Linked DNA regions of Homo sapiens: regions 1 and 3 are each linked to region 2. The links come from fine-mapping of genetic effects on gene expression. A gene starts in region 2. Each other region holds a variant in brackets. All regions are shown on one strand. Distances are between the middles of the regions. Region 1 overlaps COL26A1 (collagen type XXVI alpha 1 chain). Region 2 holds the start of CLDN15 (claudin 15). Region 3 has its middle 20 kb from the start of FIS1.

Region 1 (10,773 bases), 180 kb before region 2:
GTTCTCTGGAGAACCCTGACCCAGGCAAAATGTCCCGTTAGGGAGGGCACAAAGGAGGGGAAGGGATTTGGAGTTTGAGGACAGCGGCTCCACGGTGCTTGGGGTAGAGGCCCCAGGCTGGGCAGGCTGTGGGGAGAGTGGTTTGGGGAAGCCAGTCCCTGGAGCTAAGCACGGCCTGGAGAGGAGGAAGAAGGGAAAAGAAGGAGAGTTGGAACTTTGGAGACCGTGAATGCTGGTGTCTGACAGCAAGATCTCTCTGCGGATGCTGAAGAGTCCCTGAAGCCTGTGGTCTGGTCAGGGCTGGTGAGAGGGAGGGGCTGGTGAGAGGGAGGGGCTGGTGAGAGGGAAGGGCTGACTATGGGCGGGGCTGGTGAGAGGGAGGGGCTGGTGAGGGGTGTGGCTGGTGAGGGGCGTGGCTGGTAGGGGCAGAGCTGGTGAGGGGCAAGGCTGGTGGGGGCAGGGCTGGTGAAGGGTGGGGCTCATGAGGGTCAGGGCTGGTGAAAGGCAGGCCTCGTGAGGGGCAGGTCCAGTAACAAGTAGGGCCAGTGAGAGGGACATGCCTGGTGAGTGGGGCAGTGCTGCCAGGGGCGAGGCCTGTGATGGATGGGGCCAAAGACAGGCTGGATTTCCAAGGTCATTGTAGCCCCTCGTTCCAGCCTGGAGCCATAAGGCTGGTTGGTTCCCTCTTCAACCCCACCTGGCCTTCCCCGACCTCGGATCCCATACCCCACTCATCTGTGGTGGTCTTCTGTCTGTCAAACACCCACTGGGTTGTGTGGTTCTGTTGCGGTAGGAGCATGTCTCTGACATCTTTGCACACACACATATATACCCTATATACACACACCCATGCCTTATATACAGAAGGTGCTCCATAAATGCATGCTCAGCCTTTGTCTGTGAGCACAGCCCAGCCTCTCCCAGAGCCATCCTGGGACTGGTTTTGTCCGAGGGAATGGGAGGGAAGGGCAGAGCAGCCTAGCCCAGCGGCCTTTACCTTACGAGGTTGGCGCAGGGCCCCGGCCACCGGCAGCTCTGGTACACGCGCTGGACCACCGTCTCCGAGCCATTCTGCACCTGGCAGGACACCGTCCGTGTCACTGTGTGATGGCACCAGTGCCTGTGGAGAGAGCAACAGTCACATGAGCCCTGCCTGTTCCCAGAGCTGCCAACTTCGGGTCAGGGGGCCGTGCTGGACAGGGAGGGGCCCCCGCAAACCTGGGGTGGAGGCTCGCTCTCTTGGATGGGGGGCCCACTGAGACCCTCTGTCTCGGTCTGAGGGGAAGAGAGAACACTTGCAACCCTTGGCCACCAAGCCCTGGCATCATTCCCGTCACTGACCACTCAGTGTGGAATTGGTGAGAAAGACTCAGCCCTGCCCGTGGAAATCTCACCCTGGTGGGGAGAGGAGATGACACAGTCCATAGGAACAGCAGGTAACACGTTCCACCACGTGGTGAACACACAAGCTACAGGAACGGAGCAGGGCATCTCGCCCAGCAGGCCCTGAGGCCACCAGCTGAGTAGTGCAAGATAAGTTAGCCAACCGACCAACCGACCAACTGACCAATGTGTGGGGGCCGTGAGAGGGGACGAAGCCAGCAGGGGAAGCAGCGGTGTAACAGGCACAGAGCGGAGAGAGACCACGGCAAGTCTAGAGACTTGCCTGCAATGGGAAGTGGCCAGGCCAGGCACAGTGGCTCACACTTGTAATCCTAGCACTTTAGGAGGCTGAGGCAGGAGGATCTCTTGAGCCCAGGAGTTCAAGATCAGCCTGAGCCACATAGTGAGACCCTGCCTCTACAAAATAAAAATTAAAAAATTAGCCCAGGCGTGGTGGCACACACATGTAGTCCCAGCTACTCAGGAGGCTGGGGCAGGGGATGGCTTGAGCCCAGGATCATAGTGGCTATGATCATGCTACTTCACTACAGCCTGGGCAACAGAGTGAAACCCTGAAGAGAGGAGGAGAGGAAGGGAGAAGAGGGGAGGGGAGGGGAGGGGAGGGGAGGGGAGGGGAGGAGGAATGAGAGAGAAAGAGAGAGAGAAGGAGAGAGGGAGGGAGGGAGGAAGGGAAAGAGCCAGAGAGAGAGAGAGAGAGAAAGAAAGAAAGAGCCAGAAGGCTGAAGGAAGGGGAGGAGCCAGGAGAAAGGAAGAGACATGTGACCTGCCGGGCTAGGGAATAAATGCCTTCAGAGTACAAGAAGCAAGGGGCAGCAAGCTTGGGCAGTGGAGAGGAGGAAAGAGGAAGGGACGTACACAAACAATACGGGATCAGGTTAAGGTGCTCCCACCTCCTCCTCCCATCCCCATAGCCTAGAAATTGAAAATTAAAAAATAAGTCCCTGGCCGGGTGGTGGCTCAGCACTTTTGGGGTCCGAGGAGGATGGATCACTTGAGCCCAGGAGTTTGAGACCAGCCTGGGCAACATAGCGAGACCCCATCTCTACAAAAATATTTAAAAATTACCTGTGGTGGCACACGCCTATAGTCCTAGCCACTCAAGAGGCTGAGGCAGGAGTATCACTTGAGCCCAGGAGGTTGAGGCTACAGTAAGCTGTGATCATGCCACTGCACTCTAGCCTGGGTGACAGAGCGAGACCCTGTCTAAAAATAATAATAAAATAAAATAAGAAAAAAAGTCCTCAAGGGCATTGGAAAGAGAGAAGCAATGGGCCAGACATTTGGAGGGGTCCCTAAGAGACAGAAAGTAGATGGGCCCACATTGAAGGCAAAAATCACAGCCAGAAACACACAAAAGAGGACCGGGGCTGAAGCTAGGAGCCACATGGGGGCACAGATGCAGATGAGGAGGTAGAGAGGGACCCAAAGGTGACCATCAGAGAGATTGGTTAGGGGACCACCATAGAAAGAGCTGGACAGGTAGGACCCGGGTCCTTGTCCCTGCTGGTTTCAGGAATCAGGCATTGGAGGCTGAGTGCGGTGGCTCACACTCATAATCCCAGCATTTTGGGAGGCCAAGGTGGGAGAATCGCTTGAGCTTAGGAATTCTAGACTAGCCTGGGCAACATAGCAAGATCCTGTTTGTCTCTACAAAAAGTATATATATACGACTGGGCATGGTGACTCATGCCTGTAATCCCAGCACTTTGGGAGGTCAAAGTGGGCGGATCACCTGAGGTCAGGAGTTCGAGACCAGCCTGGCCAACATGGAGAAACCCTGTCTCTACTAAAAATGCAAAAACAAATAGCCAGGCTTGGTGGCACACACCTGTAGACCCAGCTACTTGGGAGGCTGAGACGGGAGAATCACTTGAACCCAGGAGGCAGAAGTTGCAGTGAGCCGAGATCGCACCACTGCACTCTAGCCTGGATGACAGAGTAAGACTCCATCTCAAGATATAAATATATTATAGATATAGATATCTATAGATATATCTCTATATCTATGTCTAGATATAGAGATATATCTCTATATCTATGTCTAGATATAGAGATATATCTCTATATCTATGTCTAGATATATAGATATACCTGTATCTATAGATATGTAGAGATACATAGATATGATAGTGCCACTGCACTTTGGCCTGGGTGACAGAGCGAGACCCTGTCTCTATTTAAAAAAAAAAAAAAAAGATATTAGGCATTGGATTCACCTGTCCTAAGGTAGGTATGGTCACAGGAGTGGGTGCTGGCTGACCTCAAAAACTGGTGACCTTTCAGTCTTGGGGGATGGAAAAAAGAAAAAAAAAAAAAAGCTTGTGACCTCCAGGAGAAACAGGGTCACTCTCAAAGTCAGACAGATAAATGAATTCTTACACACTCGTTTCCCATTCTTCATCCATACCTCCAGCCCACCAACAGACAAATTCTCAGGAAACAGAAACAAGCTAATGGAAAACCCCAGATACCAAGACTTTCAAATTATTTGAGGAAAAAAGGCCAGTATCATGGAAGAAAGGCACCAACTCAACAGGCAATAAATCACATCCCCTTAAAAAATAGTAAAGCAAATAGATGGAGATAATTTTTTAAAGCATAATTAATGTCCTCAAAGAAATAAGACAATGTATCACTCACTAAAAAATTCTGGCCAGGCATGGTGGCTCACACCCGTAATCCCAGCACTTTGGGAGGCTGAGGCGGGTGGATAGCTTGACCCCAGGAGTTTAGACCAGCCTGGGCAACATGGTGAAACACTGTATCTACAAAAATATACAAAAATTAGCCAGGCATGGTCCCTGACATGCCTGTGGTCCCAGCTACTCAGGAGGCTGAGGCAGGAGGATCGCTGGAGCACAGGAGTTTGAGACTGCAGTGAGCCATGATCGCACCGCTGCACTCCACACTGGGTGACAGAGCAAGACCCTGTGACATACACACACAAAAAAAATGAAATTAAAAAAATGCATTATCTTAGAAGTGAAATGTATGACTATGAAAAACAGAATGGAAACAGCTAAAGGGCAAACCGATGAGCTGCAAATCTAAGCTGTGACCTTTCCCAGTAGCCACTGCAAAAAGAAAAGGAGATGGAAAACAGGCAGAAACAGGCAACAAGGGACCTAGAGGAAGACCAAGGACCAACATCTATATAGTAGTAGCTCTGGAAGGCATGATCAAAAAAGAACAAAGAGAAGCATGTACTTGAAGAAATAACAAGAAAATTTACAAGAGCTGAAGAAAGACATGAGTTCAGGCTGGGTGTGGTAGCTCATGCCTGTAATCCCAGTACTTTGGGAGGCCGAGGTGGGTGGATCACTTGAGGTCAGGAGTGTAGTGGCATGATCATGGCTCACCACAGCCTCAACCTCCTGGGCTCATGCAATCCTCCCATCTCAGCCTCCCAGATAGCTGGGACCACAGGTGTGC[G/A]CCAACATGCTGGCTAACTTTTGCATTTTTGTAGAAACAGGGTCTAGCTATGTTGCCCAGGCTGGTCTCAAACTCCTGGGCTCAGGTGATCGTCCCACCTCGGCTTCCCAAAGGGCTGGGATTCCAGGCGTGTGCCACCATGCCCTGCTAAACTCAGGTTTAATAGACATGAAGAACAAGAAAAAAAAATTCCATATAGAGATTTAAATGTATAAGCAAATATTAGGTATAATCTTACATCAAAAAATTTCAAAAATCCTGACTACTGGACAATTTTCTAGGAAAATACATATTACCAGTACTAGCACACTCAAAAATACGTGAAAGGGGTTGGGTGCAGTGGCTCACGCCTATAATCCCAGCACTTTGGAAGGCTGAGGTGGGAGGATCACTTGAGCCCAGAAGTTCCAGACTAACCTGGGCAACACGGCAAGACCCCATCTCTATACAATAAAAAGTAAAAATTAGCCAGGCATGGTGGCACATGCCTGTGGTCCCAGCTACTCGGGAGGCTGAGGCAGGAGGATCGCTTGAGATCAGGGATCAAGGCTGGAGAGAGCTATGATCGCACCACTGCACTCCAGTCTGGATGACAGAGCCAGACCCTGTCTCAAAACAAAACAAAACAAAACAAAAACATGGAAGAAAAGGGAAAGTAGTGAAAAGTTGAGCCCTCTTCTCACAGGCACCAGGAAACCTAGTTTAAAACCAGGTTCTGCCACAAACCTGCTGTATGACTTAGGCAGAGTGATGTCCCTTCTCTGAGCCTCAGTTATATTTAAAATCTAACTTTTAAGGTTATGATGAGGCTGGGCACAGTGGCTCACGCCTGTAAACACAGCACTTTGAGAAACCAAGGCGGGTAGATCATCTGAAGTCAGGAGTTCGAGACCAGTCTGGCCAACATGGTGAAACCCAGTCTCTACTAAAAATACAAAAAATTAGCCGGGCATGGTGGAGGGCGCCTGTAATCCCAGCTACTGGGGAGGCTGTGGCAGAAGAGTCGCTTGAACCTGAGAGGCGGAGGTTGCAGTGAGCCAAGATCGCACCACGGCACTCCAGCCTGGGCGACAGAGAGAGAGACTCCGTCTCAAAAAAAAAAAGGGGGGGGGTTATGATCAGGACTAAATGAACACATCCCAGTCAGTAGTGTGTAAATCATGCAGCATTACCAAAATCAAGGCATCATTCTTAATCAACTGGTTACTTAAACCCTACAAAGGAATCTAACAGCTTAAAGACAGTCCTAGTTTGCAGATGGAAAAGAAAGTCTAAGAGGTTAAACTTCATTGCCCATAGCTACAGCTCAAACCACAGGCTGAGCTGCAAAGGGAGTCTAGTCTTCCTGACCCGAGGACTGGCGGGATCCCACCTACCCAGTACAAACTGTGAATTCCACCTCTGCCAATTAAAAAGGTCCTGAAACTGTGGGAGACTTCAGCAGCCTAGGCCCTTCCTTTGATTCTACTGGAAAGCCTCAGCTCCAGCTCAAGCACTCAGTGTGTGTTTCCAAAAAGAAAGGTGAGCCGGGCGCAGTGGCTCATGCCTGTAATCCCAGCACTTTGGGAGGCCGAGATGGGCGGATCACATGAGGTCAGGAGTTTGAGATCAGCCTGGCCAACATGGCAAAACCTCGTCTCTAATAAAAATAAAAAATTAGCCGGGTGTGGTGGCAGGTGCCTGTGATCCCAGCTGCTCGGGAGGCTGAGGCGGGAGAATTGCTTGAGCCCGGGAGGTAGAGGTTGCAGTGAGCCGAGTTCGTGCCACTACACTCCAGCCAGCGTGACAGAGCAAGACTCCGACACACACACACACACACACACACACAAACACAGAGTGAGAGCGAGAGCGAGCGAGAGAGAGAGAGAGAGAGAGAGAGGTGACTTTCCTCAGGATGGTTTAATGTGGGATCCTGAGATCCGCCCGAGGGTTCTAGAACAGACAGGCCGTCGTCCAGCATCTCTGAACCACACTGAGTCAGGGCTTTCCATAGAGAAATGAGCTGTGAATTGGAAAACATTTCCAAATACCTCAAATCACCGTCCCCATAACATTTGGTCTTTAAATGGGCTGGAAATGGCTTCCAAAAATCAAAACTTGGCCAAAAACAACGAAGAAGGGAGGCAGAGACAAGGAAAGGGCTCCAGGCCTTTCCAGATGGAGCTCTAAAGCCTGTGCATCCCCAGGTAGCCGCGGTTGTGGGGACCCCCATTGCCTTGCCCCTAGGATCCCTGCGTCCTGAGTGTTTTGTCTGCCTCTGTCTGCTGTCTGGTGGTGTCGTCCTGCCACCGCCCACCTGCGCACCTCAGCTCCTGACTATGGCGGGTGCACAGCAGTGGGTGAACAGTGCTCTGGGGGCCATAAAATAACTGCACCCAGAAAGGTGCTTAGCAGGAGACACATGTCCCTTTCACGACCCTCCTGGAAGGACTGACCCAGGAGGACAGAACTGGGACATGGCAGGCCTGGTCCTCGAACTGCCAAGAAATGAACACACTCCCGGCAGCCTCCATCAGGATGGCAAGGGACTGGCATTATCTCTGGGCATCATCTCAGCAATGTTCCTTCCTCATTTCCCTTCCCTTCTCCCCAGCTGAGCACTCAGGGAGGGTCCAAGACAGTAAACTCACTCCTAGCAAAGGTCTTGAGGACGGATCTGCTCCCAAACAAGTCTCCTTTTCTTTTTCTTTTCTTTCTTCTTTTCTTTTTCTTTCCTTTCCTTTCATTTCCTTTCTTTTCTTGAGATGGAGTTTTACTCTTGTGGCCCAGGCTGGAGTGCGATGGCATGATCTCAGCTCATTACAGCCTCCGCCTCCTGGGTTCAAACAATTTTCCTATATCAGCCTCCCAAGTAGCTGGGATTACAGTCACCCGCCACCATACCCGGCTAATATTTTGTATTTTTAGTAGAGACTGGTTTCGCCATGTTGGCCAGACTGGTCTGGAACTCCTGACCTCAAGTGATCTACCTGCCTTAGCCTCCCAAAGTGCTGGGATTATAGGCACGAGCCACCGCGCCCGGCCACAAGTCTCTTTTTCTTGCAAGAGGCGGCCCACTTCACCTAGGGGGAGGAGCAATCAAACCGTCCCGAGCCACCACCAGCTCAAGGCTTGCTTGCACAGTACTTTCACCCCACCAGGCGTTTGGCTCTGTGACTTGGCTGAGCCATCAAATCCTTAATTGGCGGTTAATAGAGAAAACAAGTGCTAAGTGATTTCAGGAAATCATGTCATGATGCGATAGAGAGATCTTCAGGACACTTCCCAGGTTCATGCCCATCTCGGAATGTGACCAGTCAACCCCTCTCCGAGGCTGCCTGCTGCCCTAAGAGATGCTGCTGAAGCAGCCTCTTCCCCCCATTGCCCTGGTGACACGGGACAGGGGAGCCCCAAAATTGAGGCTTAGCCAGGGAGGGTTCTTAGTTTCCCCCAGGAAAGAATTCAAGGACAAGCCAGTGGTGTTGCAACTTTTATTGAAGTGGCAGTGCACAGCAGCAGCAGAGGTCCTGCTCCCTGCAGAGCAGGGCTACCCCAGAGGCAGTGTGCCCAGAGTAGCAGCTCAGAGGCAGGGCTGCACTCATATCTATACCCACTTTTTTTTTTTTTTTTTTTTTTTGAGACGGAGTCTCGCTCTGTGGCCCAGGCTGAAGGGCAGCGATGCAATCTTGGCTCATTACAACCTCCGCCTCCCAGGTTCAAGGGGTTCTCCTGTCTCAGCCTCCCTAGTAGCTGGGATTACAGGTGCACACCACCACGCCTGGCTAATTTTTATACTTTTAGTAGAGAGGGGGTTTCACCATATTAATCAGGCTGGTGTCAAACTCCTGACCTCAAATGATCTGCCCGCCTGGGCCTCCCAAAGTGCTGGGATTACAGGCATGAGCCACTGTGCCGGCCCCACTTTTAATTGTATGCAAATTGGGGGTGGTTTATGCGTAAACTTCCAGGATGAGGGTGGTAGCTTTAGGGTTGTTGGGTCGTTGTCATGGAAAGGGGTGGTAACTCCTGGTGTTGTCATGGCAATGGGAAACTGACATGGCGCACTGGTGGGCATGTCTTATGGGGAGGCGCTTCTGCCCCGATCTGTTTTGTTTAGCTAGTCCTCAATTTGGTCTGGTGTCCAAGCTCTGCCCCTGGAGTCAAGTTCCACCTCCTACCTCACCACCTCTACCCCAGCCTCAGGCTTGGCCTTCCAAGCCCCAGTGCTCCTAACTGAGCTTTGCTTTGAGGGTTGATCTCATGCGTCCCCTCCCTCCCCAGGACACTTGAGTCCCGAGCCTGAGTCAGAGACCAGGGCTTTTGTTTTTTCTTTTGTTTTGTTTTGGAATGGAGTCTTGTTCTGTTGTCCAGGTTGGAGTGCAGTGGCACAATCATAGCTCACTGCAGCCTTGACCTCCTGGGCTCAAGCAATTCTGCAAGGCCCCAAGGCCTTGCCAGGGCCCCCCTCCTTTCCACCAGAACCACACAGTCTGTCCCCACTTCCTCATCCTGAGCTCTGTCCTGGCCCCCTGTTGAGTCACCACTGTGCCTGCCTGCTTGCCTAGACAGTGGTCACACACCGTCATGTCCCACAGGACACTGCAGTACACACAATGCCAACCTGTCCAATCCAACTGAATCCATCACTATTCAACCCCGACTTGCTCCTCCAGCTTGGAGGCCAGCACCTCTAAGTTCCCCGTTTCCTTACCAGGAGCAAATCACCCAGACTCCACCTTCTCCTTTCCTCCCTCCCTTCCCTGCCTCCTTACGGCCAATTAGGCACCGTGCCTGCAAGTCCGTGTCCTGACGCCCCTCCCATGGTGGTCCTGAACCTCGGCCCCTCCTGCCCTCCCAGCCTGCAGTCTCCTCTATCTACCACCAGAGGGCGCGCTCTCAAGCACAGACGTGGCCGTGTCCCTCCCGCGAGCCTTCCCTGACCCTCCAGCCAGGAAAGGTTCTCCTGTCCCACAGGGCCCCCTTGTATGCCTCTGTCTTAGCCTTCGTCCTATGGGAAGACTCCCAGCTCCTGAAGACGGCGGACACAGGGCAGGCCTGGTAAAGTTCTGTTGCTCCGACCCCAACCCCTGCATCCCAGAAGGAGCCCTCCCATCCACAGTCACTCAGCTCAACCACAGCAGCTGCTCTGGGCTGTGGTCTGTGCCAGGACCTGAGCCCCAGCAGGATCTGAGCCATCTCAAGGTTGGGGGTGTCCAGCTTCAGGCCCAGCTCCCCAGCACCACACCTGCCCTCACTGTTCTAATTACCTGGCCACACCTGCCCAATCCCTCAGAAAGGCCAGTGCCAGTGAGGTTGCCTGCCAACTGTGTTCAAGAAGCTCTGTTAGAACTAAGGTTTGCCCAGCCTGGGCAACGTAGCAAGACCCCAGCTCTACAAAAAAAAATTAGAAAAAAAAATTAGCTGGGTGTGGTGCCTCATGCCTGAAATCCTAGCACTCTGGAAGGGTGAGGTAGAAGAATCACTTGAACCTAGGAGGCAGAGGTTGTAATGAACTGAGATCGTGACATTCCACTCCAGCCTGGGCTACAGAGCAAGACTCCGTCTCAAAACACACACACACACACACACACACACCAAAATTAGCCGGGCGTGGTGGTGCACACCTGTAGTCCCAGCTACTCAGGAGGCTGAGGCAGGAGAATCTCTTGAACCCGGGAGAACTCAATCATAAGATGTTTGTTATATATTTTTTCCTTTCTCTCTGACCTTTTCATCCTTTATGCATGATTACATGTACAGTCATTTCAACAGACAGTAGTCACTAATAATTCACTACCTTCCTCTCCTAGTCCCAGGCAGGCTGTCCAACAAGATTAATAAACTTCTTTTCTTAAGAACAATGATCCTTAGTCATGTAACTTCTTTTGTGACAACCAAAAGTTGCTAAGATGCAGGTACGGTAAAACAAGAACCCACTATTTTTCCCTAGTTTGCTCT
Region 2 (10,773 bases):
AGATAGTGCTTTTTGTTTTTTGTTTTTGTTTGAGACGGAGTCTTGCTCTGTCCCCCAGGCTGGAGTACAGTGGCGCTGTCTCAGCTCACTGCAACCACCACCTCCCGGTTCAAGCAATTCTCCTGCATCAACATCCTGAGTAGCTGGGATTACAGGTGCCCACTACCACGCCCAGCTAATTTTTGTATTTTTTGTAGAGATAGGGTTTCACCATGTTGGTCAGGCTGGTCTCTAACTCCTGACCTCAGGTGATCTGCCCACCTCGGCCTCCCACAGTGTTGGGATTACAGGTGTGAGCCACCTCGTCCAGCCAGATAGTGCTTTTTGGATGGGAACCCTATTTCCTATTGGTTTTAGGTGGGTCATCATTTGTCAGAGGCCACAATACTTAACCACTTAGTTTCTCTGTAGCTCCTTGTGTTCAAATAATCATTTATAAGCACACAGTCAGTGTACAGCCATCCCTCTGTAGCCATGGGGGATTGGTTCTAGGAACCCCACCCCCACAGATACCAATAGCCACCCAAGTCCCGTATATAAAATCGCATGGTATTTACATGTAACCTGTGCACCTTCTCCCATATACTTTAAATCATCTGTAGATTACTTATAATACCAAATACAATGTAAATGCTGTGTAAATAGTATACTGTATTGTTTAGGGAATAATGGCAAGAAAAAAAGGTCTGTTCATGTTCAATACAGATGCAACTATCTTTTTTTTTTTTCTGAGTATTTTTGATCCATGGTTCGTTGAATCTATGAATACAGAATGCTGACTGTGTTAGCAAAGGATGCCTATTGAAAATCTATAAAAATGGCCAGGCACAGTGGCTCACACCTGTAATCCCAGCACCTTGGGAGGCCAGGGCAGGCGGATCACGAGGTCAGGGGTTCGAGACCAGCCTAATCAACATGGTGAAACCCTGTCTCTACTAAAAATACAAAAATTAGCTGGGCCTGGTGGCGCACACCTTTAATCCCAGCTACGCAGTAGGCTGAGGCAGGAGAATCACTTGAACTCGGGAGACAGAGGTTGCAGTGAGCCAAGATCACGCCATTGCACTCCAGCCTGGGCAACACAGTGAGACTCCGTCTCAAAAAAAAAAAAAAAAAAACTATAAAAATAAGACTCTTTCTTAAAAGATACAAATAATTTTACCCTATGTTTGTCTACTTCGGCAATTCAGATTTTCAGGTTTATTCTACAGCAGGGTGTAGGTGTAGAAGAAACAGCCTCTCTAAGTGTTGCCAGTCTAGTTGAGAAAACAGTACAGACAGGAAGATTTATAAACACCTGCAGAATTATTTAGCAACAAATTCTAGTGCATACAGTACAGTTATCCTCTGGGAAGTCTCTGAATTAAGAAAGTCAGGTGGGGCCAGGCACTGTGGCTCATGCCTGTAATCTCAGCACTTTGGGAGGCCAAGGCCAGAGGATGGCTTGAAGTCAGGAATTTGAGACCACCTGGCCTGTCTGTGTAACAAAGATGTTTAAATTAGCCAGGCATGGTGGTGTGTGCTTATAGTCCCAGCTACTTGGGAGGCTGAGGCAGGAGGATCACTGACCCCAGGAGTTTGAGGCTGCAGTGAGCCATGGACATGCTACTGTGCTCCAGACTGGAGTGACAGAGCGAGACCCTGTCTCCGTTTTTTGTTTTTTTTTTCCCGAGACTGAGTGTGCAATGGTGCAATCTTGGCTCACCGCAACCTCTGCCTACCGCATTCAAGCAATTCTGCTGCCCCAGCCTCCCGAACAGCTGGGATTACAGGCATGTGCCAACACGCCCGGCTAATTTTGTATTTTTAGTAGAGACGGGGTTTCTCCATGTTGGTCAGGCTGGTCTCAAACTCCCGACCTCAGGTGATCCGCCCGGCTCAGCTTCCCAAAGTGCTGGGATTATAGTCATGAGCTACGGCTCACGGCCCACCCTGTCTCTTTAAAAAAAAAAAAAAAAAAAAAAAAAAGGAAGGAAGACAAAGTCAGGTGGGGTCTTCGGGGAAGGCTGATTGAAGGTGAGTTTTGAGCTGATTTTTTTAAAGGGGGAGGGAGTCCTAACTTTTTTTTTTTTAAACAATAATTGTACAGCAGGCAGTTTAGTTAAAACCACAACGGCAGCACTTTGGGAGGCCAGGGCAGGCAGATCACTTGAGGTCAGGAGTTTGAGACCAGCCTGGCCAACATGGTGAAACTCCATCTCTACTGAAAATACAAAAATTAGCCAGGCGTGGTGGCGGGCACCTGTAATTCCAGCTGCTCGGGAAACCGAGGCAGGAGAATCGCTTGAACCCAGGAGGCGAAGGTTGCAGTGAGCCGAGATCACGCCATTGCACCGCAGCCTGGGCGACGAGTGAAACTCCGTCTGAAAAAAAATACCACAGCAGATGCCAAAACTGAGTCACGCTGCCTTTGGCTTCTCCAGGGCCCCGATTTCCTCATTTCAGTTGGATGGACCAGTTGACTGTAATACTGATAAAAGGCATGTTCTGTCACTGGGGTGTTGGCACAGCTGGGGTTCACCCTGTCCCAGAGCTCTGGCTAGGGTGCTGGGAGTGACTGGAGCTGAAAGGGAGGCTTAGGACTGTGACCCTCCCAGGATCACAGAGGCATTCAGAGAGTGGAAGGGGCCTCTGGGACACAGTATTAGGAAAGTATTAGGAAAGAAGCATTTCTCACCCTCTTCTCTGCCCCTCCCCAGAGCTGCTGCCCAAAGGGAGCAAGGAGGAACAGCGGGATTACGTCTTCTACCTGGCCGTGGGGAACTACCGGCTCAAGGTGAGGTGGGGACCCCGTTCCCTTCACCCTCCTCTGGGGCTGCAGGACCTTCTTACTGTGTCCTCCAGGGTGGAGCCCTGGACAGCGGGAAGGCTGAAGGGGTGCAGAGGTGCAGAGCGGTGTCAGATGAGGACTCCGAGGGAAGATCAGAGTGGCGAGGGGGTGGGGAGGAAGGTGACGTCAAGAGACTGGGTGCAGGCCCAAGCCTTGCGCTGTTATCTCCCGCAGAGTTGGGGTTGTTTGTGGACTCTACTCCGTGGGGTGGGGCTGGAGGGAGGGAGTGGGTGGAGGTCGAGGGAGGAGCCCCCAGGGCTGAAGAAGGGAAGGCCCTTCACGTGGGCAGGGGGAGTGGTGGATACTGAGGTGTAGCCGGCCCAGTGGCTCACGCCTGTAATCCCGGCTACTCAGGAGGCTGAGGCGGGAGGACTGCTTGAGCCTGGGAGTTTGAGGTTGCAGTGGGCTGTGATTGCGACGCTGCCGTCCAGCGTGGGCAACAGAGCAAGACCCCGTCTCTTATTAAAAAACAAACAAACAAAAAAACACTGCGGTGTGTATGACGCGTGCGCGTTTCCCCGAGCGCAGGAATACGAGAAGGCCTTAAAGTACGTCCGCGGGTTGCTGCAGACAGAGCCCCAGAACAACCAGGCCAAGGAACTGGAGCGGCTCATTGACAAGGCCATGAAGAAAGGTGACAGCCTCGGCCCCTTTGTTCAGCCCCGCTCTTCCCCACGCCTGGGCACTTTGGTCTCTCTGTAAATGAACCCCTCCAGGCAGCCCCTCAGCCCCACCCCTTCCAGTTCTTAGAGCCCCTTGCCCTGCGACTCCAGGTAGGGGTGTGCCTCTGTTGAGGGGCAGGGCTGGCGGAAGGGGACGGTCAGGGTTTCCGCAGGGGCCGGGCTCCTGACACTGTCCCTTTCCTTCCCCAGATGGACTCGTGGGCATGGCCATCGTGGGAGGCATGGCCCTGGGTGTGGCGGGACTGGCCGGACTCATCGGACTTGCTGTGTCCAAGTCCAAATCCTGAAGGAGACGCGGGAGCCCACGGAGAACGCTCCAGGAGGGCCTGTCCATCCTCGCTGTCCTTTCCCTGTTCTCCCCCTGCCCCCCGTCTCTATCCTCTGTGGCCTTCAGCTAATTTCTGCTCCCCTGAGATTCGTCCTTCAGCCCCATCATGTGCTTTGGGATGAGTGTAAATAAAACGGGGCTGTGGCTTGGGAACCCCCGTGTCTGCGTTGAGGGGAGGGGTGGGTTCTGAACGCTGGGCACAGGGGGCGGAGACGTCACTCCTGGTCCTCTCCTGCCCCTGCCCTCCAGGTTGGCACGGGGTTCTTTGTCCACCCCGCAGCCCAGAGCCCACACCCTTCCTTCCTCCCTTTCCTGAAGCCATGTCCTTGAGAGTGCCGGGCAGCTCGGAGACATGGGGCTTTTCCATGGTCCCAGAGTCCTGGGAGAAGGCAGTGACCTGAGCATGGGCGGGCAGAACTTCGGGGCCAGGCCGGGCTTCAGGCCTGCATTCTCCTCTGACCCACTCAGCTACTTCTGTGGAGTTTTCCACAGCAGGCCCCCTTGGCTTCCTCCTCCCCACCCTCCCCTCCCTTTGTCTTCCTGTGGCCTCCCCTTCCTCCTACCTCCTCCTCTGGGGGAGGGGGAGCCCAGTAGGGGAAGGAATCCTGCATCTGGCATGGAGTAGGCGGGGGTCCCGGGAGAGGTCAGAGCCCAGGGAGCCCCAGCTCTCGCCTGTGGGCTGGAAGGTCAGGACTCAGCCCCACCTAGCCAGCTTCGCCCCCTCGTGCCAGGCTCGGCATGGGCCTGTTTTGCTTCACCGCATACCTCTCGTTCCACAGCCCAGGCCAGCACAGGAGTAGGGAGGAGACACCTGAGGGGAGGCCGGAGAAGCCCAGCAGGGCCGTGGGGCCAGGGAGGTGCGCAGCCAGCGCTGATGGCCCCCAGGGACAGAGCCCTAGGGAACCGGAGCAGGAGATGAGAGTGTCTGCTCTGGGACAGGTGCTCTGCACTGGCTCGGGATGGGGACCAGAGGCTGCTAATCCATCATCATTAACGAATAGAGTGGGTGACAGTCCCTGATAACTGGGAACAGGTTGCAGAGCTTAGCCACAGGATCACGCTCCAGGCTGTTGGCCAGCAGGACCAGGCTCGATGCTGAGTCAAAGATCAACTTAGGAGGAAATTTGAGTTTTGGGTGAGAGCGACTCCCTGGTGGCCTCAGCCCTGTGACACTCACATCCAGGACAGTTCCCGGTGCCAAGCGCTGGTTATGTGTGGGGGGCTTGACTCCCTGGTCCCAACGAGGTCTCAGTGTGTTGCCCAGGCTGGTCTTGAACTCCTGAGTTCAAGCAATCGTCTCAGCCCAGCCTCCCAAAGTGGTAGGATTACAGGCGAGAGCCACTGCGCCCGGCCCCTGGTCCCAGTTCTCACCACAGCCCCTGCAGTAAGCAGTCGGGTATGTCACTGACAGAGCAGAAGCTCAGGGGACTAAAACTCCCCGCCTGAGTTCCCTGGTGAATGGATGGTGGGGCCGAGTTCCATTCCAGGCTGGATGGAGCCCAGAGCTGTGGGTCTCCTACCCTCCCATCCCCTCATTCCAGCTTGATCTTCCTTAAGAGACTCATACGCCCCAACCCCTTGGTCTGAGTATCTTAGATTGTTCTCGTGGTTCCTCCGTCCTTCACCACTGAAGGCTGCTGTTCATTCTCTCTCCGTCTCTGTCCCTTATTGCTCTCACGTCTGTCTCTGTCATCTTTTCACTCCTTGTCCCTCTTACTCCGTTCTTTGGCCCCCAATGAAAGCTGAGTCAGAGACAGACGCTTCCCCTCAGTTCCCAGTGCCTCCCTTGGGGGCCCCTCCTTGGCTGTATCCGTCAGTGGCTCCAGGGTAAGTCTGCCCCCCCCACCCTCGTGGGGCGGGGAGCCCGGGGCAGCCCAGAGGCTGGGGGGAGGGGGTGGACTTTTGGCCCGTTTCGGTTATTCCCTCCATCTCGTCAACAGCTGCCGCGCGCAGGCTTAGCTCATTCCTCTGACCTGCCAGGAAGCAGAGAGACCCACAGAGCAGGAGGGAGGCAGAAAGTGGAGACGGACCTGAGCCCGAGGAAGAGGCAGGCAGAGGCTGAGGCTGATTCCACCCCAGCCTGCCTGGACAACCCTCCTTAGCCGCAGCCCCTTCCAGTTCCCTAGGGGTTCTGCCCCTCCCCCTCTCTGGGGCACCAGCCCCCCAGGGTCCTGCATCCCACCATGTCGATGGCTGTGGAAACCTTTGGCTTCTTCATGGCAACTGTGGGGCTGCTGATGCTGGGGGTGACTCTGCCAAACAGCTACTGGCGAGTGTCCACTGTGCACGGGAACGTCATCACCACCAACACCATCTTCGAGAACCTCTGGTTTAGCTGTGCCACCGACTCCCTGGGCGTCTACAACTGCTGGGAGTTCCCGTCCATGCTGGCCCTCTCTGGTATGGGGTGGGGAGCGCTCCAGGGAGAGAGGGCGGCGGGGAAGCTGCAGAGACCCCAGGGGAGGGCGGGTACTTCCGTGAGGATGCAGGGAGCCCTGAATTAAGCTCTGCGGGTCTGAGTTCCCGCAGCCAGGAGTGCTGGGGGCGGCCCATGCCTAGAACTGGAGTGAAGACCTTGCCACACGTGGCCCCCTGCGCTAGTGTGGCGCTTTTAGCTGTTACAGGTGCAGGCACCAGAATCAGACCCCCTTTCCCAGCCCTGTGCTGTGGGCAAATGATGAAACCAGCTTCATCTCCCACCTGTAGGGTTAGGGTGAGAGTCCCAGTTCACAGGTGACTGAGAAAGTGCAGAATGTTAGCGTGATGTTAACACACATAGGCACTCAGTACGGTTGAGCATGTTTTGGGGGTGGGATTGCTGGGGTGGGCAGGGGGAGGAGGCCCCATCTTGGATTCTTAGAGGTTGATCAACTTCCAGGCTCCACAGACTCCCCAGCCTCACTGTCGGGGGGCACTGGTCTCCTTGTCCGGCTGATGTCTATAAAGGGCCCCTGTGAAGGGAGGCGTCTTGCAAGTTGCAGGTTGAGCGTCCGCTGTAAGGAGGCGGTGTGTGTGCAGGTGTGTGGGGCTTCCAGGACAGTGTCTTTCTGGGGTCTTAGAGGGCTGGAGCCAACAGCTCTTTGGGCCCAGGGCAGTTCTTTCTGTGGCTGCGGCACCTTCCCGCTCCCTGCTCCCCGCTAAGATGAGGCCGCCCCATTGTTTCTCCGGGGCAGTCTCCCTTCCGTCTGCCCTATGCCAGAGACTGAGCGCTGGCGACCGTGAACTGTGTGTGGTGCCGCTGCACGCCCTCCTGGGTCCTTCAGGGCCAGTCCACTCACCAGGCACCGTGTGGCAGGGAAGGAGCCGAGGGCGACACTGGCTGTGAAGCGGGGCTTGAGAGCTCACCCCCGGGGATGTTGGAGCTGCTCTGAGCAGTTAGGGGGCCTGGGTGGGTCTCCTGTGCCCCCACTACTCCCAGCCCCTCCTGAGGCAGCGGCAGAGGCTTCCTGTTTTCATCCATCTCTCTAGGACTGACTGTATGCAGGGCCGGCGGGCCCCCCCCCCAAAAAAAACCCTATAAAAGCTGAGTACAACTTGGGCCAGAACCCCAGAGTTCTGAGTGTCCAGAAGGGACACTGGAGGCAGCCCCTACACCCACTTCCCAGACACATCATGCTGTGAGGAGGGGGCTCTGCTGTGAGCCTGCACACCTGAGAGGGGCACCCCTGGCAACTGCATGAAAGATGGTGCCAGAGTCCCCAGGGCACAGGGGTAGAGGGTGACCAGGTTCCGGGCCTTGGGCTAGGTGCTTCTGCCTACATTTTTCCACAGTGGGGAAGTAGGGGGAAACTTTTACAGAAGCAAGGTGCAGCACCCCACCCTGAATCACACAGGCAGGAGAGGGGAGCCGGCATTCAGACTCCACGGCTGGGGTGGTCCTGGGAGAGGGACCTGACTGCGTCTCCCAACCGTGCACCCCAGCCCCTGGCCACGCAGCCCATGTGCCCCTGGGCTCTTCCATAATCTCTCCATTGACTGCTAGAGCCACCTGGGGACTCAGACTCGTGTCAGCCCCAGAGGGAGTGGCTGGGAGGAAGAAAGTGCTCCCAGAGAACTTTGTCCCTCCTGCCTACCCCCCGACTCTGCACCCTGCATCTCCTGGCAGGGACCCAGCCTTTCCCCTTCAGCACCAACAGTTATGCCCCACCCGGGAAAGGGGTGCAAGGTCCTTGGAATGCTTGGCAACTATCAAAGACAGAGAAGGGAGGAGAAGGGGGAAGCAAGAGGGAGCCCGCAGCCTCCAGCTCTGAGAAAAGGGAAACTGAGGCACTGAAAGACTGAGCTAGACTGACCTGGATCGGTCCTGGGCCCAGGATTCCACCTAGGTCAGAAACTCCACCGGGTGTGGTGGTCCACACCTGTAACCTGAGCTACTCAGGAGGCTGAGGCAGGAGGATCGCCTGCATCCAGGAGTTCAATCAAGGCTACAGTGATGAGCTGTAGTGGCGCCACTGTCCTCTGGCCTGGGCGACAAAGCAAGACCCTGTCTCTAAAACTGCCCTAGGCCCTCTGCTGTACAGCACCGCTGCCCCCTACCTGTTACTCCAGGAAGAAACCAAGGTCAAAATGTCCAGCACTGGGCTAGGACAGTGAAGGACTTGGAGTGGAATCAGACGTGGGGAAGGCGACAGCGATGCTTAGCTGTGGTTTCTGTATACCCAGCAACGTGAGAGCAACCTGATAGGGCAGTTGTTCTCAGCCGGGCGACTTTGCACAATGATTGTCACAGCTTGTGGGGAGGGGGTTGCTACTGGCACCCCGTGGGTAGAGGTCAGGGAGGCTTCTGAACATCCCACAGTACACAGGACGGCCCCCAGAATAGAGTTGCCCAGCTCAGGTGTCAAGAGTGCCCAGGAGAAAGCCTGTAATCCAGGCACAAGCAAAGCGTGCCAGGTGCATGGGAGGAGTGGGGAGCAGGGTGGGAGGGGCCCAGATGCCTAAGGAGGGAAGGGTGACTGCAACTGGGTAGGCTGGAGGAGCCCAGGGGAAGGAGAGGATGTGGGGACTGTTAGGTACAAGAGAGCAAGAAGGTGAGGGGGGCCTGGCACAGTGGCTCATGCCTGTAATCCCAGCACTTCAGGAGGCCGAGGCAAGCAGATCATTTGGGGTCAGGAGTTCGAGACCAGCCTGGACAACATGGTGAAACCCTGTCTCTACTAAAAACAGAAAAATTAGCCGGGCGTGGTGGTGCGTGTCTGTAATCCCAGCTACTGGGGAGGCTGAGGCAGGAGAATCACTTGAACCTGGGATGGTGAGGGGCTGTTGGGCTGGCTCCGTCGCAGAGGGGAGATGGGAAAGGCTGACAACTGTGCCCACCCCCAGGGTATATTCAGGCCTGCCGGGCACTCATGATCACCGCCATCCTCCTGGGCTTCCTCGGCCTCTTGCTAGGCATAGCGGGCCTGCGCTGCACCAACATTGGGGGCCTGGAGCTCTCCAGGAAAGCCAAGCTGGCGGCCACCGCAGGGGCCCTCCACATTCTGGCCGGTAACTGGGGGAAGGTGATGGGGCGGGGGTCCCCCTCAACCGCAGACTTCAGGCTGCTTTGTCCTCATCTAATCTCCTCTCCAATTCCCACTCCTCATGCTCACCTCCCCTACCCTGCTGCATGGACACCTGCTCACCCCTGCCTCATCTGTACTCCCCAGATCTCCTGGCTGCAAATCAGCCCATCGGCAGTGTTTCTTGAGCTCCCAGTAGGGGCTGGCCACGGCCAGGTGTGGGAGGGACTTCGAAGATAAGAGTGAGCGGCTGCCTCCGGGAGCTTACATCCTAGCTGGGGAGCAGAGTTAGGGTGCACGCTATGGCGCACACACACAGTGCACGTCCACAGTGCCATACCACGGGGCATGGTGGCTCATGCCTGTAATCCCAGCACTTTGGTAGGCTGAGGTGGGTGGATTACTTGAGGTCAGGAGTTCAAAACCAGCCTGGCCAACATGGTGAAACCCTGTCTCTACTAAAAATACCAAAAAAAAAAAAAAAAAAAAAAAAAAAAAATTAGCCAGGCGTGGTGGCAGGCACCTGTAGTCCCACTGACTTGGAGGCTGAGGCAGGAGAATCACCTGAACCTGGGAGGCAGAAGTTGTAGTAAGCCAAGATTGTGCCACTGCATTCCAGCCTGGGTGAAAGAGTGAGACTGTCAAAAAAAAAATGGCCAAGGCAGGAGAACTGCCTTGAGCCCAGGAGTTCCAGACTAGCCTGGGCAGCATAGTGAGAACCCGTCTCAGCAAAAAACAAAAACAATGCCATCTGGCCATTGCTTTTCAATTTGCAGAACATTTCTGTACCCATTGCCTCACAATAAGCCTTTGAGGTAGGGTGGGTATTGCTTGTTTTCCAGAGGTAAAACAGGCCCAGAAAGGTCAGGTGGCTTGCAAGAGGACAAGCCCCCAGTGAGTAGGGTGGTGCTAGCCCGGGGGTCTGCCTGGCTTCAGGAAAGGACGACCCTGGACTCCCATGGCCCAGCTGGGTTTTCAAGGTTTCAAGGGTGGGCGGGATTTGGATGGGGCTCCATCTGGGTGAGGAGATGATGGGATGAAGGCCCTAGAGGTGGGCATGAACTAGGTAGATCTGGGACCAAAGAGAGAAGAGGCAGGAGGAGGTTGAGGTAGTGTGAGATGAGCTGGGTGGGCTGGACTTGGGGCCTAAGGGCTACCCTGAGAAGTTGACCCCAGGAAGGAGGAAGGCTTATAAACTGGGGTGGGGAGAAAGGAATTGAGTGAAATTGCTGCTCTGGGACTTGGTGCCCCCGTCCTACTCTGGGCAGCCCCTGCCTGCCTCTCCCCTAAGCCCCCTCCCCCACTATCCCTCCCCCTGGACTGGACTGGGGTCGTCCTCCGGTCCCCAGGTATCTGCGGGATGGTGGCCATCTCCTGGTACGCCTTCAACATCACCCGGGACTTCTTCGACCCCTTGTACCCCGGAACCAA
Region 3 (10,773 bases), 27 kb before region 2:
GGTAGGTGCTGTGAATCATGCCTGTAATCCCAGCACTCTGGGAGGCCGAGGCGGTCGAATCACTTCAATTCAGGAGTTTGCCACCAGCCTCGGTGACATGGCAAGACCCTGTCTCTACAAAAAATACAAAAATTGTGCTTGCTTTGGCAGCACATATACTAAAATTGGAACGATACAGAGATTAGCATGGCCCCAGCGCAAGGATGACACACAGATTCGCGATGCATTCCATATTCTTGCTATAGTCCGCTGCCCGTTACCTCGCTTTGCTTCCCTTCCCCGTATCCTGCCATAACGTCACAGGGCCCGTGACGTCATAGCCTTCCCATGTCCGTCTCCCGTTGCACCATTGAGGTTGGCGATTGGAGAACAATCTCGCCATCCCCACTCAGGCGTGGCGCCTTGCCACCTGCCGCTGTAGCCCCCATAAAACAATAAATAAAAATAAAAATACAAAACTTAGCCAGGCATGGCGGTACACGCCTTTAGTCCCAGCTACTCGGGAGGCTGGAGGTAGGAGGATCACTTGAGTCCGGGAGGCAGACGCTGCAATGAGCTGAGATCATATCACTCCACACCAGCCTGGGCAACAGAGTGAGACTCTGTCTTTAAAAAAGAGGGCCAGGCGAGGTGGTGCATGCCTGTACTCCCAGCTACTTGGGAGGCTGAGGTAGGAGAATCGCTTGAACCTGGGAGGCGGAGATTGCAGTAAGCCGAGATCCGTGCCATGGCACTCTAGCCTGGGCAACAAGAGTGAAACTACATCTCAAAACCTCAAAACAAAACAAAAAAACAAGGCCAGGTGCGATGGCTCATGCCTGTAATCGCAGCACTTTGGGAGGCCGAGGTGGGTGGATCATCTGAGGTCAGGAGTTCAAGACCAGCCTGGGCAATATGGTGAAACGCTGTCTCTACTAAAAATACTAAAATTAGCCAGGTGTGGTGGCGGGCGCCTGTAAACCCAGGTACTCGGGAGGCCAAGGCACTAGAATCGCTTCAGGAAGGTGGAGGTTGCAGTGAGCTAAAATTGCACCATTGTATTCCAGCCTGGGTGACAGAGCGAGACTCCATCTCAAAAAAAAAAAAAAAAAACCCAGAAAAACTGATAAAAGGATAGTAAGGATACCAAGCAACTCTACCCATATAAATCCAACAAGCTGGAAGAAATGGACCAATTTCTTGAAAACTACAAACTACCAAAAAACACTCAATATGAAACATAATTTTTAAAGTCTTGTAACAATTTTAAAAATGGAATTCATGGTTTTTTATTTTATTTTATTTCATTTCGAGACTGCGTCTCACTTTGTCACCGACACTGGAGTGCAGTGGCATAAACACGGCTCCCTGCAGCCTTGAATTCCTGGGCTCAGGTGATCCTCCCACCTCAGCCTCCTGAGTAGCTGGGACTACAGCCGCCCACCACCACACTCAGCTAATTTTTTTATTTTTTGTGGACATGGGGTTTTGCCAAGTTGCCCAGGCTGGCCTCCAACTCCTGGGGTCAAGCAATCCACTTGCCTTGCCTCCCAAAGTGTTAAGATTACAGGTGTGAGCCACCATGCCCAGCTGAATTCCCCTTTTTTTTTGAGATGGTGACTCACTCCATCACCCAGGCTGGAGTGCAGTGGCACGATCTCGGCTCACTGCAACCTCTGCCATCCAGGTTCAAGCGATTCTCCCACCTCACCCTCCTGAGTAGCTGGGATTACAGGAGCCCACCACCTGTAATCCTAATTTTTTGTATTTTTAGTAGAGACAGGGTTTCACCATGTTGACCAGGCTGGTCTCAAACTCCTGACCTCAGGTGACCCACCCACCTCAGCCTCCCAAAGTGTTAGGATTATAGGCCTGAGCCACTGCACCTGGCCTTGAATTCATAGTTTTAATAAAACAATTTCTTGTCTTCGTGGTCACATACAGCTAGTTTGGTGATTCCCTGGAAGGACCCACGTGACTGCAGATAAAGTTATGCTCTAGGTGAAGATATATTACAGCGGAGGATACAATACAAGAACAGCAGGAAAAAGGGTATTAATAGATGAAGGCTGGAGAGGTCAAATGCACACTTTTTTATCCTCTCTCTGCAGGAATGCACAGACATATCTTTTCCAGGAGCAAACTGCAAGGACTTGTGTGAGATGTCCTTGCCCAGGAAATTCCACTTGAGTTCTGGTGTCAAAATTTGTGTGGTCAGGCCAGTCGCAGTGGCTCACCCCTGTAATCCCAGCACTTTGGGAGGCCGAGGTGGGAGGATTGCTTGAGTCCGGGAGTTTGAGACCAGCCTGGGCAACATGGTGAGACCTCGTCTTTATTAAAAAGAAAAAAAAAATTAGGCTGGGCGTGGTAGCTCACGCCTGTAATCCCAGCACTTTGGGAGGCCAAGGCAGGCGGATCACCTGAGGTCGGGAGTTCCAGACCAGCCTGGCCAATATGGTGAAAACCTGTCTCTACTAAAAATACAAAAATATTAGCAGGGGCCGGGCGCGGTGGCTCACACCTGTAATCCCAGCACTTTGGGAGGCCGAGGCAGGCGGATCACGAGGTCAGGAGATCGAGACCATCCTGGCTAACACGGTGAAACCCCGTCTCTACTAAAAATACAAAAAAAATTAGCCGGGCATGGTGGCAGGCGCCTATAGTCCCAGCTACTCGGGAGGCTGAGGCAGGAGAATGGCGTGAACCCGGGAAGCAGAGCTTGCAGTGAGCTGTGATCGCGCCACTGCACTCCAGCCTGGGCGACAGAGCGAGACTCCGTCTCAAAAAAAAAAAAAATTAGCCAGGCATAGTGGTGGGCTCCTGTAATCCCAGCTACTCGCGAGGCTGAGACAGAAGAATCGCATGAACCCGCGAGGCAGAGGTTGCAGTGAGCCAAGGCCACGCCACTGTGCTCCGGCCTAGGTGACAAGAGTGAGACTCCATCTGGAAAAAAAAAAAAATTAAAACATTTGTGGGATGGGCGTGATGGCTCGTGCCTGTAATCCTAGTACTTTGGGAGGCTGAGGAGGGCAGATCACCTGAGGTCAGGAGGTTGAGAGCAGCCTGGCCAACATGGTGAAACCCCGTTTCTACTAAAAATATAAAAAAATTAGCCAGGTGTGGTGGCACACGCCTGCATTCTCAGCTATTCAGGAGACTGAGGCGGAAGGATAGCTTGTACCCAGGGGGCGGAGGTTGCAGTGAGCTGAGATCGCGACATTGCATTCCAGCCTGGGCAACATTCCTGCCATGTGACCAAACACAGCCCTTAACCACAGGTTGGGCATCATGAATCTTTTTTTCTTTTTTTTTAGAAATGGGGTCTCACTATGTCACCCAGGCTGGAGTGCAGTGGCATGATCATAGCTTACTGTAGCTGCTGCTTCTTCTTTTTTTTTTTTTTTTTTTTTTTTTTTGAGACGGAGTCTCGCTCTGTCACCAAGGCTGGAGTGCAGTGGTGTGATCTTGGCTCACTGCAACCTCTGTCTCCCAGGTTCAAGTGATCCTCCTGCCCCAGCCTCCCAAGTAGCTGAGATTACAGGCGTTCACCACCATGTTCAGCTAATTTTTTGTATTTTCAGTAGAGACAGGTTTTTCCCATGCTGGCCAGCCTGGTTTTGAACTCCTAACCTCAAGCAATCCCGCCCGCCTTGGCCTCCCAAAATTCTGGGATTACGGGCATGAGCCACTGCACCTGGCCAAGTATCATGAATCTTTATGTTTACTTTAAATCTGCTGACAGCCTGGTTCATCTGGGCTCACTGTTTTGGCCATGGAGAATAACATCTGAACCAGTAACTATGTGAATATTCCAGAAGTTTGGTTTTCAGAGTTTGACAAACAGCCATCACCTTGGCTACAGAGATAAGTGAGAAAGGGGGGAAACAGACCTGTTGTATTAACTCTTTCCTCCCACTCTTGAAAAAGATATCTCCAGACCCAGATAGTTTCACTGGAGAAGTCTACTCATAGTTAAAGAAATATCGACACTAATTACACGTAATCTCCAGAAAACAGAAGAAGGACCACTTCCTGACTGACGAGGCCAATACAGTTGACCCTTATAGCTGCAGGTTCCCCATGCATGGATTCAGCCAACCACAGATCGAAAATTTTCCGAGATATGGACGCCAGGCGCGGTGGCTCATGCCTGTAATCCCGAGAATCGTTTGAACCCAGGAGGCGGAGGTTGCAGTGAGCCAAGATTGCGCCACTGTATCACTGCACTCCAGCCTGGATGACAACAGTGAAACTCCATCTCAAAAACAAAACAAAAAAAAACCAGAATATCACCCTAGGTGGGCATGGTGGCTCACAACTCTAATCTCAACATTGTGGGAGGCCGAGGAGAAAGGATCGCTTGAGCCCAGGAGGTTGAGACCAGCCTGGGCAACATAGCAAGACACTGTCTCTACAAAAAAATTAAAAAATTAGCTGGGTGTGGTGGTGCACCTGTAGTCCCAGCTACTTGGGAGGCTGAGATGGGAGGATCACATGAGCCCAGGAGTTCCAGGCTGCAGTGAGCTATGATTGCAACACCGTACTCCAGCCTGGGGGAACACAGCGAGATCCCGTCTCAAAAACAAACAAAAAAACAAAAACAGAAAAAAACTCATTTCTGCCATTACCTCTTCAAAACTTTTCCTTAACTTGCAGTCTGGAGTTGAAGACCCTTCCGCTAAGCTCTGGTGAGAGGCTAACTGAATAAGAACACTTTGACCATCATATTATAATAATTGCTTTATTTATTTATTTGTTTTTTTGAGACAGGGTCTTGCTCTGTCCCCCAGGCTGGAGTGCAGCAGCATGATCACAGTCCACTGCAACCTCAACTTCCCAGGTTCAAGAAATGCTCCCACCTCAGCCTCCTCAGTAGCTGGGACTACGAGCATGCACCACCACATCGGGCTAATTTTATGTATTTTTATAAAGAGGGGCATCGGCCGGGCATGGTGGCTTACCCCTGTAATCCCAGCATTATGGGAGGCCAAGGCGGGTAGATCACCTGAGGTCAGGAGTTCCAGACCAGCCTGGCCAACATGATGAAACGCCATTTCTACTAAAAATATAAAAATTAGCC[G/A]GGCATGGTGCCACGTGCCTATAATCCCAGCTACTCGGATACTCGGAAGGCTGAGGCCGGAGAATTGCTTGAACCTGGGAGGCGGAGGTTGCAGTGAGCCGAGATCGCGCCATTGCACTCTAGCCTGGGCGACAAGAGTGAAATTCAGTCTCAAAAAATAAAGAAATAAAGAAATAATAAATAATAAAATAAAATTAAAATAAAATAAAGAGGGGTGTCTCGTCATGTTGCCCAGGCTGGTCTCATATTCCTGGGCTCGAGCAATCCACCCGCCTCAGCCTCCCAAAGCACTAGGATTGCAGGTGTGAGAGCCACTGTGCCCGACCAGAGCTGGGCTACATATCTTCATTAAACTTTTCATCAGGGTCAACTGGACCCTGGCTCCTGCCCCACCAGTCCTATGAGGCTGCAGAGTGTGTGGCCCCAATAAAGATTCTCCCCCAATCCCTCTACCCCCAGATCTTCCTGCAAGGTTGGCAGAGCTGGATGCTCTGAGAGCTAAGGGCACATGGGACAACCAGTGCCTGGCCAGAGAAGGGGAGGAAAACACGTGATGCCTCACTGAACACAGAACAGCCACCCCCGCATGCTTCTGCAGGGCGAGGAAGGTCAGCTCTTGCCTCCTTCTCCAACCCTCCTCCCAAACACCAAGCAGGTTTCTAAGAATAGTAAAAGGCCAGCAGATCCATCTTCAGGGCCTCTGTGATCAGAAATGTGCAAATACCTTTTTCTTTTCTTTTCTTCTCTTTTCTTTTCTTTTCCTTTCTTTTCTTTCTTTTCCCTCCCTCCCTCCCTCCCTCCCTTCCTTCCTCTCTTCCTTCCTTCCTTCCTCCTTTCTTTCTTTTTTCTTTTTTTTTTTTTGAGACCGAGTCTTGCTCTGTCACCCAGGCTGGAGTGCAGTGGTGTGATCTCTGCTCACTGCAACCTCCGCCTCCTGGGTTCAAGTGATTCTCCTGCCTCAGCCTCTCAAGTAACTGGGATTACAGGGGCCTGCCACATTGCCCGGCTAATGTTTGTATTTTTAGTAGAGACGGGGTTTTTCCTTGTTGGCCAGGTTGGTATCCAACTTCTGACCTCAAGTGATCCGCCCGCTTTGGTCCCCCAAAGTGCTGGGATTACAGGTGTGAGCCACTGTGCCTGGACCAAAGATCTTTTTCTTTGTGCCTTTTGGGAGTTAATAAAGCACTCATATCTGAAAATCTGTTTCTGCATCCCACACTCAGAATGCATGGCGGAAACAGTCCAGGAATGCACAAGGCTTGCCTGGGAATCACATTCAGCAAGTTCTGGGATAGAAAAACTGAATCTAAAGGAAAATTGTATTGTGTACTTACCAGTACTCTGTAGAGTGTTTCAGTACCATGAAGCCAGGCGTGGTGGCTTATGCCTGTAATCCCAGGACTTCGGGAAGTAGAGGCAGGAGGATTGTTTGAGGCCAGGAGTTCGAGACCAGCCTGGGAAACATAAAGAGACCCCATCTCTACAAAAAATATAAAAATTATCCAGGCATGGTGGTGCATGCCTGTGGTCCCAGCTACTCTGGAGGCTGAGACGGGAGGATCCCTCGTGCCCAGGAGGTCAAGGCTACAGTGAGCTATGATTGTACCACCACACTTCAAACTGGTCAACATAACAAGATCCTGTCTCAAAAATAATAAAAAGACATGAGCTAGCTGACTTTTTTTTTTTTTGAGACTGAATTTTGCTCTTGTTTCCCAGGCTGGAGTGCAATGGTGTGATCTCGGCTCATCGCAACCTCCGCCTGCCGGGCTCAAGCGATTCTCCTGCCTCAGCCTCCCAAGTAGCTGGAATTACAGGCATGTGCCACCATGCCCGGCTAATTTTGTATTTTTAGTAGAGATGGGGTTTCTCCATGTTGGTCAGGCTGGTCTCAAACTCCCAACCTCAGGTGATCCACCCGCCTCGGCCAAAGTGCTGGGATTACAGGCGTGAGCCACTGTGCCCTGCTGAGCTAGCCCGCTTTTGCATGTTGCAGTAAATTTGCTAGGGCTTTCTGAACAAAGTTCCACAGATTGGATGGTTTAAACAACAGAAATCTATTTCCTCACAGTTCTGGAGGCTGGGAGGCTGAGGCCAAGGTGACGCCAGGGTTGATTCTCTCTGAGGCCTCTCTCCTTAGCCTGCAGATGTCCACCTTCTCCCTGTGTTCATGTCCTCTTTCCTCTGTGTATGTCTGTGTCCTAATCTATCACCCCACAACCTTTTTTTTTTTTTTTTGGAGAGACAGGGTCTTGCTATGTTGCCCAGGCTGATCCCAATTCCTGACCTCAAGTGATTCCCCCCACCTCAGCCTCCCAAAGTACTGGGATTACAGGCGTGAGCCACCATGCGCGGCCCCATCTCCCCTTCTTCTTCTTTTTTTTTTTTCTTTGAGACAGAGTCTCCCTCTGTCGCCCAGGCTGGAGTGCAGTGGCGCAATCTCGGCTCACTGCAACCTCCACCTACCGGGCTCAAGCAATTCTTCTGCCTCAGCCTCCCAGGTAGCTGGGACTACAGGTGCGTGCCATCATGCCCAGCTAATTTTTGTATTTTTAGTAGAGACGGGGTTTCACCATGTTGTCCAGGCTGGTCTGGAACTCCTGACCTCAAGTGATCTGCCTGCCTCGGCCTCCCAAAGTGCTGGGATTACAAGCATCAGCCACTGCACCCGGCCCCATCTCCCCTTCTTATAAGGACACCAGTCAGATTGGGTGGGGGCCCACCCCAATGACCTCATTCTAACTTAACTTCTTTAAAGACCCCATCTCCAAATATAGTCACATTCTAAGGTCCTGGAGGTTAGGACTTCAACATATAAATTTGGGAGATGCAATTCAGTTCATGACACAGATACATCTCCGGCAATTCAACACCTAACAAAAGCGTGATTTCTTCACGTTTTCCACTGCTTTCATCTTCTCAGTCGTTAAGTCAATAAAAGCCTCCGAGTTTTAAAAATACCTTAGCAATTTTGACATTTAGGAAGGTTCATAGCTCTCAGATTTGCCCAGCTTGACGTGATCTTATTTTTCAGAGGAAGCAGCCTCTATTCAGCTCCTAGTCACAGCCGGCCTTCTGGAACATTCTTTCGAGCATTTGAAGGCTTCCAAGAGATGGGAGGGGGTGTCTTTTATACTATAACGCTTTGAGTAATCTAGCTCATGCAGGCATTCCTCTTCATGAAGGACTTAGCTACCTGACTTTTGACCAGAAACAGATGATTTTACCTCAAAATTACTTTTTAAAAAATAAGTTGACCTACCACATATCAAAAAGATAATAGCGAATAGAAAAATTACTGCAGACAATTTATAGAGTCAAGAGACCTAGAAAGGCTTCAATTCCCACTACCACACCTTGAGAAAATTACCCAACCTCTTTGATCATGTTTGCCAATTAAAAAATGGGCAACTCGTCCGGGCACCATGGCTCACGCCTGTAATCCCAGCACTATGGGAGGCTGAGGCAGGAGGATCACCTGAGGTCAGGTTCGAGACCAGCCTGACCAACATGGAGAAACCCCATCTCGACAAAAAACACAAAATTTGCTGGGCGTGGTGGCGCATGCCTATAATCCTAGTTACTCGGGAGGCTGAGGCAGGAGAATTGCTTGAACCCAGGAGACGGAGGTTGTGGTGAGCCAAGATTGCATCATTGCACTCCAGCCTGGGCAACAGAGTGAGACTCCGTCTCAAAAAAAAAAGTGAGCAACTGAATTGAAGATCTTCAATTACTGGCCAGGTGTGGTGGCTCACACCTGTAATCCCAGCACTTTGGGAGGCCAAAGTGGGAGGATCTCTTGAGGTCAGGAGTTTGAGACCACCCTGGGCAACATAGTGAGACCCTGTCTCTACTAAAAATACAAAAATCAGCTGGGCGTGTTGGCACATGCCTGTAATCCCAGCTACTTGGGAGGCTGAGGTGGGAGAATCACTTGAACCCAGGAGGCAGAGGTTGCAGTGAGCCAAGATCACACCACTGCACTCCAGCCTGGTAGACAGAATAAGACTCTGCCTCAAAAACAAACCAAAATGAAACAACAAAACAATGCAAAGTTGGCCGAATGTGGTGGCTTATGCCTGTAATCCCAGCACTTTGGGAGGCCAAGGTGGGCAGATCGCTTGAGGCCAGGAGTTTGACACCAGCCTGGGCAACATAGTGAGACCTCCTCTCTACAAAAAAAAATCAAGGAAATTAGCTGGGCATGGTGGCACATGCCTGTAGTTCCACCTACTTGGGAGGCTGAGGTGGGAGGATAACTTGAGCCCAGGAGGTGGAGGCTGCAGTGAGCCATGCTCACACCACTGCACTCCGGCCTGGGCGACCTCAAAAACAAAACAATGTGGAATTGTGGAATTGGCCAGGTGTGGTGGCTCATGCCTGTGATCCCAGCACTTTGTGAGGCTGAGGCACAAGGATTGCTTGAGACCAGCCTAGGGAACAGAGTGAGATTCCATCTCTATTTTTAAAATTTATTTGTTTATTTATTTTTCTGCGAAAGGGTCTCACTCTGTCACCTAGGCTGGAGTGCAGTGACACAATCTCAGCTCACTGCAACCTCCACTTGCCAGGCTCAAGCAATCCTCCCACCTTAGCCTCCCAAGTAGCTGGGACTACAGGCACATGCCACCATGCCTGGCTAATTTTTTAAATTTTTATAGAGATGTGGGTTTCGCCATGTTACCCAGGCTGGTCTTGAACTACTGAGTTCAAGCAACTCAAGTGATCCTCCCGACTAGGCCTCCCAAAGTGCTGGGATTACAGACATGAGCCACCGTGACCAGCCTAAAATTTTTAAATAATAATAAAAAAGTCTTCAATCATTTCCTTCTATAAAATTCTAAGATTTTAATATAAAACAAACAAGCATCTTTCATCACATGGGTATCCTCAATTTACCCTACAAATGAAGATTATTCCATTAAATTTTGAACTTAAGCCTGGTTGCCCCACCATTACCCATCTGAAGCAATCCTTAACAACGCAGAATTGGCCAAATGTGGTGGCTCACGCCTGTAATCCCAGTACTTTGGGAGGCAGAGGCAGATGGATCACCGTGGTCAGGAGTTCAAGACCTGCCTGGCCAACATAGTGAAACCCCGTCTCTACTACAAATACAAAAATTAGTTGGGGGTGGTGGCAGGAACCTGTAGTCCCAGCTACTTGGGAGGCTGAGGCAGGAGAATTGCTTGAATCCAGGAGGTGGAGGCTGCAGTGAGATCATGCCACTGCACTCCAGCCTGGGTGATAGAAGGAAACTCCACCTCAAAAAAAAAAAGAAAAAAAAAGAAAAAGAAAAAAAAGACTCTGACTTGTCCTTGAAGTTCCTTCAATATTTGATGGAGTTCTGGACTTCTAAAGGTCTGTTTTTTCCTATATTTATTACTTCTTAGATTTAATAAATACGTGTTAAACCCCCCATGATATAAGAGAAAACCTCATATAAGTCAAAATACAGGACCTAAATGGCATTATGGAAGTACTAAGAGAGTTTTGAAAAGGAGAGGATTACAAACTTCAGAATAATTTATAACGCTGTACATTAAAAATCTTTTTTTAAAACTTTTATTTTAGGCTCAGGGGTACATGTGCAGTTTTGTTATATAGCCAAACTCGCGTCACGGGGCTTTGCTGTACAGATGGTTTCATCACCCAGGTACTAAGCCTAGTACCCAATAGTTACTTATTTTTTCTTCTCCTCTCCTTCTTTTTTT

What was found. PIP is the estimated chance that this variant, and not a neighbour inherited with it, causes the effect. A credible set is the group of variants that fine-mapping cannot tell apart.
Region 1: its variant is the best candidate, but not a certain one, in a credible set for the expression of CLDN15 in whole blood (INTERVAL, PIP 0.76).
Region 3: its variant is the best candidate, but not a certain one, in a credible set for the expression of CLDN15 in whole blood (INTERVAL, PIP 0.59).

What each region holds. Positions count from the first base shown.
Region 1 is chr7:101,410,324-101,421,096 of GRCh38, reverse strand. COL26A1 (collagen type XXVI alpha 1 chain) reads right to left here. Exons shown (of 13, transcript NM_001278563.3): 2 at 998-1,120. Among named protein-coding and RNA genes, the nearest start is that of COL26A1, 53 kb to the right of the region's middle. RefSeq lists enhancers at 1-145, 146-697, 9,267-9,810. The variant G/A (reference allele first, on the strand shown) is at 4,837.
Region 2 is chr7:101,232,833-101,243,605 of GRCh38, reverse strand. CLDN15 (claudin 15) reads left to right here and starts at 5,804. Exons shown (of 5, transcript NM_014343.3): 1 at 5,804-6,241; 2 at 9,164-9,328; 3 at 10,692-10,773. The coding sequence starts at 6,025. FIS1 (fission, mitochondrial 1) reads left to right here. Exons shown (of 5, transcript NM_016068.3): 3 at 2,700-2,776; 4 at 3,359-3,464; 5 at 3,703-4,134. The coding sequence ends at 3,800. RefSeq lists an enhancer at 3,143-3,686.
Region 3 is chr7:101,259,403-101,270,175 of GRCh38, reverse strand. It overlaps the pseudogene RNU6-1104P. Among named protein-coding and RNA genes, the nearest start is that of FIS1, 20 kb to the right of the region's middle. RefSeq lists a silencer at 4,014-4,191. The variant G/A (reference allele first, on the strand shown) is at 5,060.